Homo sapiens: one gene and its partner. The protein of the gene in region 1 binds, or shares a complex with, the protein of each later gene. Each region holds a gene or a part of one and is shown on either strand. Other genes may lie near its edges. A codon is read from its position in the direction of its gene.

Region 1 (8,000 bases):
ACCGCTGGGTGCAGCAGGGCTGTATGGACCCCCATCCCCTCAGCTAAGATGGGAGCTGCCCCCAGTGGGGGCGCAAGCAACCACAGATAACTGGGGGTGTTGGGGGCAGGAAGCCTAAGCGGGCAAGAGTTGTGGCCCAGGTGCCGTGTCCACCCCGGCCAGCCCAGGGAGGCCAGAAGGAACACAGGAAGAGCTGCTCTCCTGGGGAGGGGGGGTTCCCCGAGGAGGGGACAGGATATCCTGGCTGGCTTCCCCAGGCGCACACAGGAGAGTTCGCCCTAGCCCTGTAGGGTCAGCGGAACACCGGCTCCTGCCTCAACCCCCCTGCACACATGCCTGGGCCCTGGCTCTTCAAGGCCAGGCTTGTCGTCTTCAGGCCAGAAACCACAATATTTCTCATTTCACAATCCACCTAAGGACAGGGCCCTGTCTCCGCCACCATTGCCAAGACTTCTTACAGCAACACAAGGCTGGACTGGCGCAAGGCTGGACCTGATTTCGTGAGGCTGCAGGTGGCCTCCAGCTACTCTGCCATCCTGGTTCTATGACCAGGTCTCCCCTCAAGAGACTGGTCCTGCCAACCTCCTAGGGCACTGAGGGTGGGAGCGCATCTCCCAGGCCCCCACCAAGCCACATGTCCTGCCCAGTCAGGGTCCACCTCCAGTCCCACCCCACATGGAGGTACCTGGGTTGGAGGCTGTTCATGACAACTTCCCAGGGCCAGGCACACGTCTTACAAGGACAGGACCCAGAACTGGAAAGGACCAGCCCCAGATCTGGCCACTTCACAGAAGCATCCCTTTCCTGGCCACCCCTTCACAGAAGCCATCCTGCCCCTGTCCCCAGAAGCCACCCCTGCCTTGCCAGCTCTGCGGAGGCTGGGCGAAGGTAGACTCTTGCTGAGCAAACTTCCGAGACCTAAACAATCCAAATGAGGAAGAAAACACAAGTGCAAGCAGAGACTTCCTCTGGGGCGTGGCGAGCCCTCTTCCTCCTCTTCCTCCACACGGGTGGCTGCAGTGAGCCCGGAGGCATGTGTCCACAAACCTGAATACAAGTGAGAATTGAGGGGGTCTGCGGGCACTTTGCCTTGGCCTCTGGCTGAGGAGGTCTTCCCACCCTTGGACATCTCAGAGAGTCTGGGGTCCGGGAGGCAGGTGGCCACCAGCACACAGCACCTGTGAACCTGGCATCTGCTAGACATTTGCACAGTGGCATCGGACTGGGTTCCCCTGGGGTCACTGCACACAAATATCTCCCAAACCCCAAGCCGAGCCCCCGCTGTTGCAGCCACGAGCAGAGCCAGCTCCTCTCACAGACCAGCAGCGGCTGTGGCTCAGGCACCCACTGACATGTCAGGAGACAGGGGCTTGGGAGCTGGGGTGGGGAAAAGTCTCCAAGATCACCCCCCAACCACATCTTTGAGGAGGGAGGTGGGTAAGACTTCCCCTTCCTGATGTGGAAGGCCACCTCTTAGCAAGGAAGGCAGTAGCCCTGCGACCCCTACCCCACCCCCTCACCTGAGACGATGCTTGAAGCCATTTGGGGCCTGGCTCCTGCTGTCACCCGCCCTGAGGCCCTGGTGGCAGCTGCCAGCAGGCATGGACAGGCCTCTGGATGCCCTCCAGCCAGTTCTCTACTGAGCCTGCCCGAGGCAGAGGAGATGCTTCCACCTGAGGACGCTCAGGGAGACCACCCTTCAGCCCTCAGGTGAGCCCCACAGCCATCAGCCATGGGATGTCTGGGTAGAGGCTCCCAGGCCAGAGGCTGGCACCACACCAAAAGGCCGCTGGCTGGGCAGCCAGGAAGTAGGGCCACTGGGGCAGCGGGGGAAGGCCCCAGGCAGGCATGGAGGAGAGCAGCCTGGACCTTCCCGGAGGTGACTTCCCAGGCCTGTCCCTGAGAAATCCAGTGCCCAGCCCTGCTCAGGCACGCTGTACCGGGAATTGGAACCACCTGGTAACAGGGGGGCCAGGTGCCTCTGCTACCAGCGCTGCTTTCTCCGGGAGCACAGCTGCCTCTTAGTGAGAGCTGCAAACGTGCCTCTCCGCTCTCTGCATCAAGCCAGGTTTTCATGAGCTTGGTTCAATTAGTTAATGTGGGGCCCGTGGGGACGGCCCGTGGCATGCTGAGCCCTCAGGGAGCACCGCCACCGTCACCTTCCTATCCTGGACAGCCCCCTGCCCCAGAGTCCACCTGGGCCTCAGGGGGTCTGAGATGCGGCACCGGACATCAGGGGCCTTCTCTCTTGGGGGCTCCTGAGCCTCGAGTCTCAGCCGACCTTGAGGAGTTATCTTACTGCACCCAAGGGTGCGCTCCCCAGCACGCTTCTCTTCCCAGAAGGATTCACACCTGGACTACCCTCCCGGAGGTGTGGAGCCAAATTCTGGGCTCCAGGTGGTCCCCTCCCCAGCCGGCTCCCTCCCCACGCCGGGCCTGCGAGAAGATGCGCACCCCCAGACACAGCAGCGCCTCTGAACTTCAAGGGAGAGTGCAGAGTTTGTGTTTCTGCGTTTCCCCACTTCCTTCCCTCCTCTGCTCCGGGGTCGCAGCTCCGACGGGGCAGGTGGCGCTGGGACAGAGCTCCCCCACACCAGCTCTCAGGAAGCACCTTCGTGCCGGCCGTCGCCGGTGGCGATACTCACACGGCGAAGTGGTAAACGAAGCATTTCCAGCCGGTGGGACGCTCGAGGAAGTTGTAGACGCGGCCCTGGACGTGGGTGCGCGCCAACACCGGGCGGCGCGTGCTGTAGATGGAGACGCGCGGGTCTAGGCTCACCGGCGGCCGCGGGCCAAGGTCGGAGGCAACTGGGGGCGCGGCGGGCGCGGCCGGGGACGCAGGGGGCGCGGGACCTGGGGCGCCGGGCGCGATGGGCGCGTAGAGCGCGCCGCCCGCCGGGCCGCCCTCCGCCAGCTCCAGCGAGAAGGGGCACTTCTTGGCCAGGCCCGCGCTGCCCCGCCGGGCGCCTGGCAGGCGGCCCCAACCCCAGCGCTTCCTCTCGGCCCTGGGCGGGGAGGAGGCCGCGGCCATAACGAGGAGGGCCTGCCGGGGGGCCGGCCCGAGCGGCGGCACCGGGAGCTGCAGCGAAGGCGAGCGCCCGGGCGCAGTGCGGGCAGCCACTGCTGCCAGCCCCGCCGCGGGGGGCCGCTGCCGGCCCAGCCCGGGCGCTCGGGGCGGGGCCGGAGGGGGCAGTGGCCGAGGGCCGGTCCCATGGGACGGCGTGCCCCGCCCCCGCCTGCACGCCCCGCCCCCGCCGGTCCGGCGCGCACAGGGCGTCCCTGCCCGCGCCCACCGGCTTGGCCCGCCCTCTCCCCACGGACCGGCCTGGCCCTGCCTCCGCCTCACCCCCTGGCTTGGCCTGTCCGCGCCCCCGCCCCCGCCTGCGCCCCCGCCCCCACCCCCACCCCCGCCCGAGCCCACCTGCTTAGCCCCGCTCGTGTCATCTATCCCGCTTGGCCCCGCCCCCTCCTCGCCCACCTGTTTGGCCCCGTTCCAGTGTGCATTTACCCCGCCTGGCCCCGCCCCCTCCCCGCCCACCTGCTTGGCCCCGCCCTCACCCACCTGCTTGGCCCCGCCCCGTCTGCATCTCCCCTGCTTGCTCCTGCCCTGCCCTCACCCACCTGCTTGGCCCCCACTTCTGATGCCCGCCTGCTCTGCCTGGCCCGGAGGAGGACCCCAGCTGCGCCAGGGAGGAAGGGGTAAGGCCTGGCCGATACCACGACCGAGAACGGCACAGCGGGGGCAGGAGGGGCGGGGTAGGGTGCCGGCATCTACTTTCCCTCCCTCTGAGCCACTCCGGAGTTGGGGTTGGGGGGAGGAAAGGGATGTCCTGGGTGAGGGTGTGCTGGCCCCGCGATCACTGTGAGCGCCCCCGGGTGCCCAGGCGCGCGAGCTGCGGGCGGCGAATACGCTCGGGTCGCTTCCCACCAGGGCCCTTGGACCGGGAGGGTGAGATGGGACCACCACTGTCAGGTACCTCCCAGTGGGAGCTGTGTGGGTGGGGAGCCGGCAGGGCTGCTGGGGGGTGGGGGCGGCACAGCCGGGGTCTGGACCTGGTTTGACTGCCGGGCATAGCAGGCGGGGCTGCCTGGGCAGTTAAAGGGAGAGGCGCTTGCGCCACCCTAGTAACTTGGAGAATGGGCGCCTTGTCCTCCCCACCGTCGAGACCGCGCTGCCGCTGCGCCCCGTGGATTCCCCTGGGTGGGGGTGGGTTGGTCACATCGGAAGATTTTCACAGGTCTCTGCACTGCCTCCCGCCCGCTACTGGCATTTGGGTCTCAGCACGTCTCAGGCTTGGGGGGGGGGTGGGGGGCAGCCAACAGAAGAGACCGGCTTTTTTCAGGATACTGCACACAGCCCTGAGGCAGGGACTAAAGGTGGAGCTCAGCGGTGACTCTCCGCCCCGCCAGGAGACCCATAACTCATGTGACACTTCCAGGTCGTCCCTGAGCACCCTGGGTCAATTTGATGTATCTACCACCCCCTGCCAAAAGTCTGCTCTTTTATCGTGGACGGAGTCCAGCCCAGGCCCTTGACGCCTGACTCCCCACCCTAGTGAGGTGCCACACAGGAGTGCACAGTCTGTATTTGCAGCAAGAGTGGATGGAGTGGGTCCCAGCTTGTGCTGGGCGCTGTGATAACACAAGGGAGGCCGAGGAGAGGGTACCTTCCTGGGAAGCATATCAGTGAAGGTGCAGAAGGGCAGCGGGTCAGAAGATGGGGGCAGTCAGTCAGCTCTGCAGGGCACACAGCACGCATTCAGCAGTTACTTTCCGGGTGAACATACATACACCTGCATGGAGTCTCTGCCTTCCCCTCCCACCTCAGCAGGAGGAAGGTGAGCTTTGAATAAGCAGCGTTTGGACAACTGGACAGTCATAAAGAAAGAAAAAGCATACCTTGGGTCCATCTCACCGCACACGAGAATAAATCTCAAATGAATCAGAGGCTCAAGTGTAAAGGGTGAGATGAAGCCATGCAAATTCTACAAGAATGTACAGGTCAATTCCTCAAGAACCTGTGAATCGGGAAAACATTTCCAACTATGACTTGAAATCCAAAAGCAACAGATAAAATAAGAAAAATTAAAATAGAAGCACCATTAGCAAAGTAAAGGAGACAAATGACCAAATGGGAAAAGTATTTGCAGTTTCGATCACAAAGGATTAATATCACTGATACATAAAGAACATCAAAACTGAGGTGAGGAACCTGCCAGACAGTCCTATAGAAAAGGGAGCAGAAGACATGAGCAGTTCATAGGAAATGGGGTTCATGACCTTTGCACTTATGAAAAAATGTTCAACCTCATTTATAACAAGAAAAATGCAAATGAAAAGTACACTCTGATACCACTGCTTGCTTATCAGATTGGCAAAAATCCAGACTTTTGATGGCAACTCTGTGGGAGAGGCAGCAGGCACAGGTGCACTCCTCATCACTGGTAGAAAAGAGACCTAGCGATATTACTAAATGTATCATTTGACACAGAAACCCCACTTCTAGGAAATAACCCAAAGATATGTAGGAAAAATAGAAAAGTACATATACATAATGATAGTCAAAACAGCATTTTTTATATTAGCAAAAGTCTAGAGACAATCACAATGTCCTTCAATCGCTTCAGCTGTGCTGTGGTACAGTCACACGATGGAGTGCCATGATCAATATGATCACTAATACTCAACCAAAGGATCCCAAAGAACTCTGTGTGTGTGTGTGTGTGTGTGTGTGTGTGTGTGTGTGTGTGTGTATCAAAGAATGATGCTAAATTCCTTTGGAACCAAGATTTTCAGTATAAAAGTGATACAGATTTAAAAAATCAAAGAAGTACAAACCAGTCCTTAAATTGAATGGACTATATTAGCATAGACTCCTCAGCTATTTTATCTTAGGAAAAAGGTATATCCTACTATTGTTCATTGTCAAGTTTGAGAAGGGGCTGATCAACAATGGGACAATTTGAGCATCAGAAAGAGTCATGGATGAAAACACATCAAATAGCTGAAAAGCCCATGCATTCATGATAATACTGAAAAATCCTATTTGATCTTCTGCAGGTTGCTTTGCTCATTATTCTGAAAACGAGTGAAAAGGCAGGGCGGTCAGGCAGGTCAAGCCTCCATATTTTAAAAATTCTAGGCCGGATGCAGTGGCTCACACCTGTAATCCCAGCACTTTGGGAGGCCGAGGCAGGCTGATCGCTTGAGGTCAGGAGTTTGAGACCAGCCTGGTCAACATGGTAAAACCCCGCCTCTACTGAAAATCCAAAATTAGCTGGGTGTGGTGGCACACACCTGTAATCCCACCTACTCAGGAGGCTGAGGCAGGAGAATCACTTGGACCCGGGAGGCAGAGGCTGCAGTGAGCTGAGATCGCACCACTGCACTCCAGCCTGGGTGACAAGAGCGAAACTCCATCTAAAAAAAAAAAATTCTAATAACTCACTAGGGAGGCTTCTTGGAGGCCCCCAGGGCTGTCTCCTGGGCCCTGAGCTGTGCCACAGCCTGCTGCTCTGGGGGTATGGGGTCCCATTGGCTTGGGGACACTGAGGCAGGAGAGAGACTGGACAAGGGATTGTCTTCAAGCTCCCTGCAAGCTCCAAGGAGCTGAAGGGGGATGGGTGGGGAACTGAGAGGAGGGAGTAAGGCCAGGTGCGCAGGTGAGGTAAGGTGGGGCTGGGCTGGGCTGGGTGTGGGCTCAGGTGAGGCCAAGGGCTGAGGGTGGGGGAGTAAGGGTGGATGGCCTGGTAGGACAGACAATACAAGTGGGGCCTGACCGAGCCCAGTGGCCACTCTCTGTGTGAGCAAGGAGGTGAGGAGGGCCCCCATCAGCTGAGGGAGCAGGACCGCAGGGTTGTAGCCTCCCAGCTGCCACCTGCTCTCTCCAGGACACACCCTCCACTGAGGAAAGCCCCTCCTCTATCATTCCGGTGGGTGCACATGTCCAGCCCTGGCTGTCCTAGATGCAAAGACTGACAGACCTATCAGCCAGCATGAACAGGAAGGCAACCCTCTCCCAGCCTCTCAGGCTCTCAGGCTGTCCCAGAGCCTCAGAACCTTCTGGAAACATGGCACTCAATCTACCTCACACCAACCTTCCAGGGCTGTTTGCCGACATCCCTCAGCTCACCAGGCTCACCTCATGTTCCTCCAGCAGGGTCAGAGGCCCACAGTGGGAGGAGCCTCAGAAGTCACCAAGAATGCATGAGGAATGGGGAAGCTGAGGCTGACCAAGGGAAGGGTGTGTGGCTGCTGTGAGATCAGCATCTGCGGGCCAGGGCTGGGCTGCTAGAACAGCCAGGCCACCACAGGCTTCCTGGCCAACATCCTCCTTCAGGTAGTCTTCCTACCTATTCATTCATTCAATCATTCGTTCATTCCCCCAGATCCTCGCAGAGCACCGGCTGAGTGCCAGGCGCTGTTCTAGGCGCAGGTTACAGAGCTGTCTCACCACCAGGTAGTGGTGGGACAAAAAAAACGAAGGGGGCACAGGATGGGGGTGCAGATTGTGGAGGGTGGTCAGCAAGGGTCCCAGGGGCGTCTCCACAGAGACCCTGGAGCAGGCCCTTCAGCAAATCTGGGAGGCATTTGCTGTTGGAGGAGGACTCTGCATGCAGGAGGCACCCAATGCAGAATGGATGGGAGGGTAGGAGATGGGGCAGGGTGGCTGGACAGAGCCACCACCCTGTATTCCTCAAGCTGATGTGTCTCTCCAGAGGATCCTTATGCCTGGCGAATGTCTCCTATGGATATGATGCCCTACATCTGTAAGGCATCACCCCATTTAAGGCCCTGCTGTTCTTTTTTAGATTCAGAGGGTATGTGTGCAGGTTTGTTACATAGGTATATTGCGTGATGCTGAGGTTTGGGGTATGGATGATCCCATCACCCAGATAGTGACAATGGTAGCCAATAGTTTTTCAACGCTTGCTCCCCCACCATCTACCAGTCCCCAGTGTCTATTGTTGTCCCTCTATGTCTATGAGCACCCATCATTT
Region 2 (3,493 bases), about 72 Mb from region 1:
TTGGGATTACAGGCGTGAGCCACTGCGCCTGGCCACCATAGGATATTAGAATGTTTAAATTTTACTCCCTTCAAATCCTAGATTTTTATTTAGTCCAACCTGGGTGTGTGTAAGGAAACATACCAAGTTCTTAGTTTGTGAATTCAGACAGATCCGTTGTTCCAGGCCCCGAGATCCCTGGAGTTGCCCTGGTGTCTGCAGCTCCTTCTTTAAACTTTGAGCTACCCCATACACCTCAGAAATTCCCTTTTGTACTTATGCTAATATACATCAGGTGCCTGTAACTCACAACCAAAATAATTTGTATTATTTTATGATTATGCCCATGGAGTGTGAGGACTGTGTGAAGGGGAGCCTTCTCCACTGGGGACACTGAAGTCATGGAGTAGCCCCAGGAGGCCTGCTTCCTGCTGTCTCCCCAGCCTACCTGCCCTCTCCAGGAGGGAGCTCCCCAACATCTGCCTCCAAGCTTCCCTGATCTTGATCCCTTCATTCACTCTGCCCATTTAGCTCTGTCCTAGCTTTCAAAGCCCAGTTCAAGTTCTACCTCTCTCAAGTTCTACCATGGGACCTAAACTGGGCTGAAGGTACATGAAGGTGCTACAGCAGAAACACCTCTGTGGAAATACTTGTAAGGAATACCTACTTACTACATAGGGTTGTTATGAGGGTTTTAAAAGCTAAATGAATTCAAGTGTCTGACTCCTCCTAGTCAATTTCATTTCTCAAAATCCTTATGGCATTCATCACCTAACCATTCATTCTTACACCCAATTGCGTTCCATATTTTATTTGGAAGTTTGGGCTGGGTGGTGTCTAAAGTCCTATCCACGTAAATTTCTGAATCTGTTGTCTTCCCATATGTCACATCTCCTTAAGGAAGTCTCCACCTTCTCCCTCAAGAAGAGATGAGGAAGGGCTTGAGCAACAGGGCTCAGCACAGGTTTGCAGAGCATCAACATAACTGCATATGGCAGCAAATGTGTTCCATGATCCTCCATTCAAGAACCCAAAGGCTTTTATTTTTATTTTTTCAAAATAGAAGTACCTTTTTTCCTTTTATTATACAAGTAACATACTTACGGTCAAGTCAGTCAAATATTACATAAATTTATCATGCGGAAAGGGAAAATCACCTATAACCCAATTCCTCAGAGATAACTGCTGTCAGAATATTATTTCAGAGTTCTGCTATACACAAATACGCATGTTTCAATGGGTACTTCCAGGGACCGCATGGAGATCCCTTAAGTTGAAACTGGACAAACAGAACAGTGGATGGTTCTAGCTGAGATCTGGGATAGTTTCTGAATTCAGAAGTGTTCACCAGCCACATTGCATGTATTAGCTGGAACCATATATGAAACTACGATACTCAGCTGTTTCTAACCTACAAACACAGTGATTACATATGGCTCAACTTAATGTATATGAAGCCTAGAATGTCAGAACTGATAGAGCCTTAGAGACTTTCAAGTCTATTTCATTATGTTGAAGAGGAAAACGGATGAGGGAGAGAAGTGTCCAGCCTAAGATCATACATCACCTTAAGTGGTAGAATCAGGGCTGCTTCTCTTCCTACTGGACCATGTACCTGTCTCTCATACTCTGCTTCTTTTAATATAATAATAATTTAGGTGCGATATCAGTCTTTTTTGTTTTTGTTTTTGTTTTTTTTTGAGACAGAGCCTTGCTCTGTCACCCAGGCTGGAGTGCAGTGGCGTGATCTTGGCTTACTGCAACCTCCACCTCCCGGGTTCAAACAATTCTCCTGCCTCAGCCTCCCAAGTAGCTGGGAATACGGGCACCCGCCACCAGGTCTGGCTAATTTTTGTATTTTTTTAGTAGATGGGGTTTCACCATGTTGGCCAGGCTGGTCTCGAACTCCTGACCTCAGGTGATCCGCCCACCTTGGCAGTATCAGTCTTTTAGAAGCAGATTCAACATGACATCAGAAAACTTCTCTCAGATAGTCGTGGTGGCTTACACTTGTAATCCCAGCACTTTGGGAGACCAAAATGGGCAGATAACTTGAGGACAGGAGTTCGAGACCAGCCTGGGCAACATGTGAAACCCTGTCTCTACTTAAATATATATATATATATATATATATAAATTAACTGGGTGTGGTGACAGGAACCTGTAATCCCAGCTACTCAGGTGGCTGAGGCAGGATAATTGCTTGAACCCGGGAGGTGGGGGTTGCAGTGAGCCAAGATTGGGTTGCTGCACCACAGCCTGGGTGACATAGGGAGACTGTCTCAAAAAAAAAAAAAGAAAAGAAAAGAAAAGAAGTTTCTCACATCACTCAGTCAAAACTGAAAAGACTGCTTGCTTTGGAGGTAGTTTAGTCCTGTTGCCTGGCAATGTGGCTGGGAAGTGCCCTGTGACTTGGTTCAAGAAGCATATGAACCATAGAGCTAACGAGGCCTAACATTCAGGGTCCTGACTCACATGAGCTCCTTCTTAAGGTCCTAGCAGGGGCCCTAGCAACATATTAATGTGGCAGTATATTTTCATAATGTTTGCAAAAGTAAGATATTTTAGAATTCTTTTTCTTAAAGAGAGTCCCCAGAATTGTATGACCTTCAGGCCTGGATCCACTCCTGTGTAGCACAGAGTTTTGAAAAGCACTAGGCAAGGAGACCAGAGTTCCTGGGTTCCAATCATGGCACTATGCAGGCCCAAATGGGCAGCACAGCACTTGCCCTGCTTTCTTCACGGGAGCGGGGGCAGGGTGGTGGTGGTAAATCATATCTGTGATATGGGATAGTCATCACTGCTTCTCATGGCTGAAGATAACACATAAAAAATGTGTCCCCAGAGCATCTTCCTGTCTCATTTCCCTCTGCTACAACTTCTTCTCCGTTCTCCAATCCCCAGGCCCCTAATACTCCAGCCACTGAACCAGTTATTGGTCATTATCTGTTGCTACTTTTATATGTTTGTTCATGGGCTCCCACTGTTTATAAAGTCTATCTTTTCCTGGGAAAAAATCCTTATGCACAAGGCTTCGGTCTACCAGCCCCTCTTCTCCCACCCCAGTGACGACCTCCCTTAACCGTGTTTCTTGTTGATCTTACAGATAGGGACACTGAGACCTGATGCAGTCCACAGCAGAGTTCTGGAGGCCCCAGACGCAATCCCCAGGTGTCTTGGTCTTCCACCGTCCCAGCCCTCTCGTGTTAGATCATAGACACACGGTTCTTGATATACACATGATAGGGGTCACTACGCTTGTCCACTTTGCGGGAGCGGGTGTATCCCAGGATGAGGCTGCCCACAGTTACAGCAAATAGAAACATGACAAAGAGAATGTACATGTAGGAGTTGTCATCACGGCCAGGTAGGCTGGCCCGCCTCTCTTCAGTCTGGTTGTCTGGCCCCAGCCCTGGCCCTGGCCGGCAGAGCAAATTGCTGTGAAGAGTGGCATTTAGAGCCTTCAGCACGGCATGCAGGCTCTCATACCAGGTCTCCGTTCCATTGGTAGTCT

What was found.
Region 2: the proteins of KCNQ1 (region 1) and KCNE3 are in contact, whole or in part, in a cryo-EM structure (PDB 6V01), measured with the Homo sapiens proteins. Residues at the interface, in NP_000209.2 of Homo sapiens: Arg116 (codon at 2,686), Pro117 (codon at 2,683), Thr118 (codon at 2,680), Gly119 (codon at 2,677), Trp120 (codon at 2,674), Cys122 (codon at 2,668), Phe123 (codon at 2,665), His126 (codon at 2,656), Phe127 (codon at 2,653), Phe130, Leu134, Leu137, Ile138, Val141, Leu142, Ile145, Gln147, Tyr148, Arg181, Met238, Val241, Asp242, Gln244, Thr247, Lys362, Asn365, Ile368; in NP_005463.1 of Homo sapiens: Asp54 (codon at 3,338), Asp55 (codon at 3,335), Asn56 (codon at 3,332), Ser57 (codon at 3,329), Tyr58 (codon at 3,326), Ile61 (codon at 3,317), Met65 (codon at 3,305), Phe68 (codon at 3,296), Ala69 (codon at 3,293), Val72 (codon at 3,284), Gly73 (codon at 3,281), Leu75 (codon at 3,275), Ile76 (codon at 3,272), Leu77 (codon at 3,269), Tyr79 (codon at 3,263), Thr80 (codon at 3,260), Arg81 (codon at 3,257), Ser82 (codon at 3,254), Arg83 (codon at 3,251), Val85 (codon at 3,245), Lys87 (codon at 3,239), Asp90 (codon at 3,230).

What each region holds. Positions count from the first base shown.
Region 1 is NC_000011.10:2,440,130-2,448,129, reverse strand, and holds the start of KCNQ1 (potassium voltage-gated channel subfamily KQT member 1), read right to left. Parts: upstream 3,123-8,000; 5' UTR 3,032-3,122; coding exon 2,646-3,031; intron 1-2,645. UniProt on the Homo sapiens protein: Pore-forming subunit of the voltage-gated potassium (Kv) channel involved in the regulation of cardiomyocyte excitability and important in normal development and functions of myocardium, inner ear, stomach and colon.
Region 2 is NC_000011.10:74,454,067-74,457,559, forward strand, and holds the end of KCNE3 (potassium voltage-gated channel subfamily E member 3), read right to left. Parts: coding exon 3,186-3,493; 3' UTR 775-3,185; downstream 1-774. UniProt on the Homo sapiens protein: Ancillary protein that functions as a regulatory subunit of the voltage-gated potassium (Kv) channel complex composed of pore-forming and potassium-conducting alpha subunits and of regulatory beta subunits.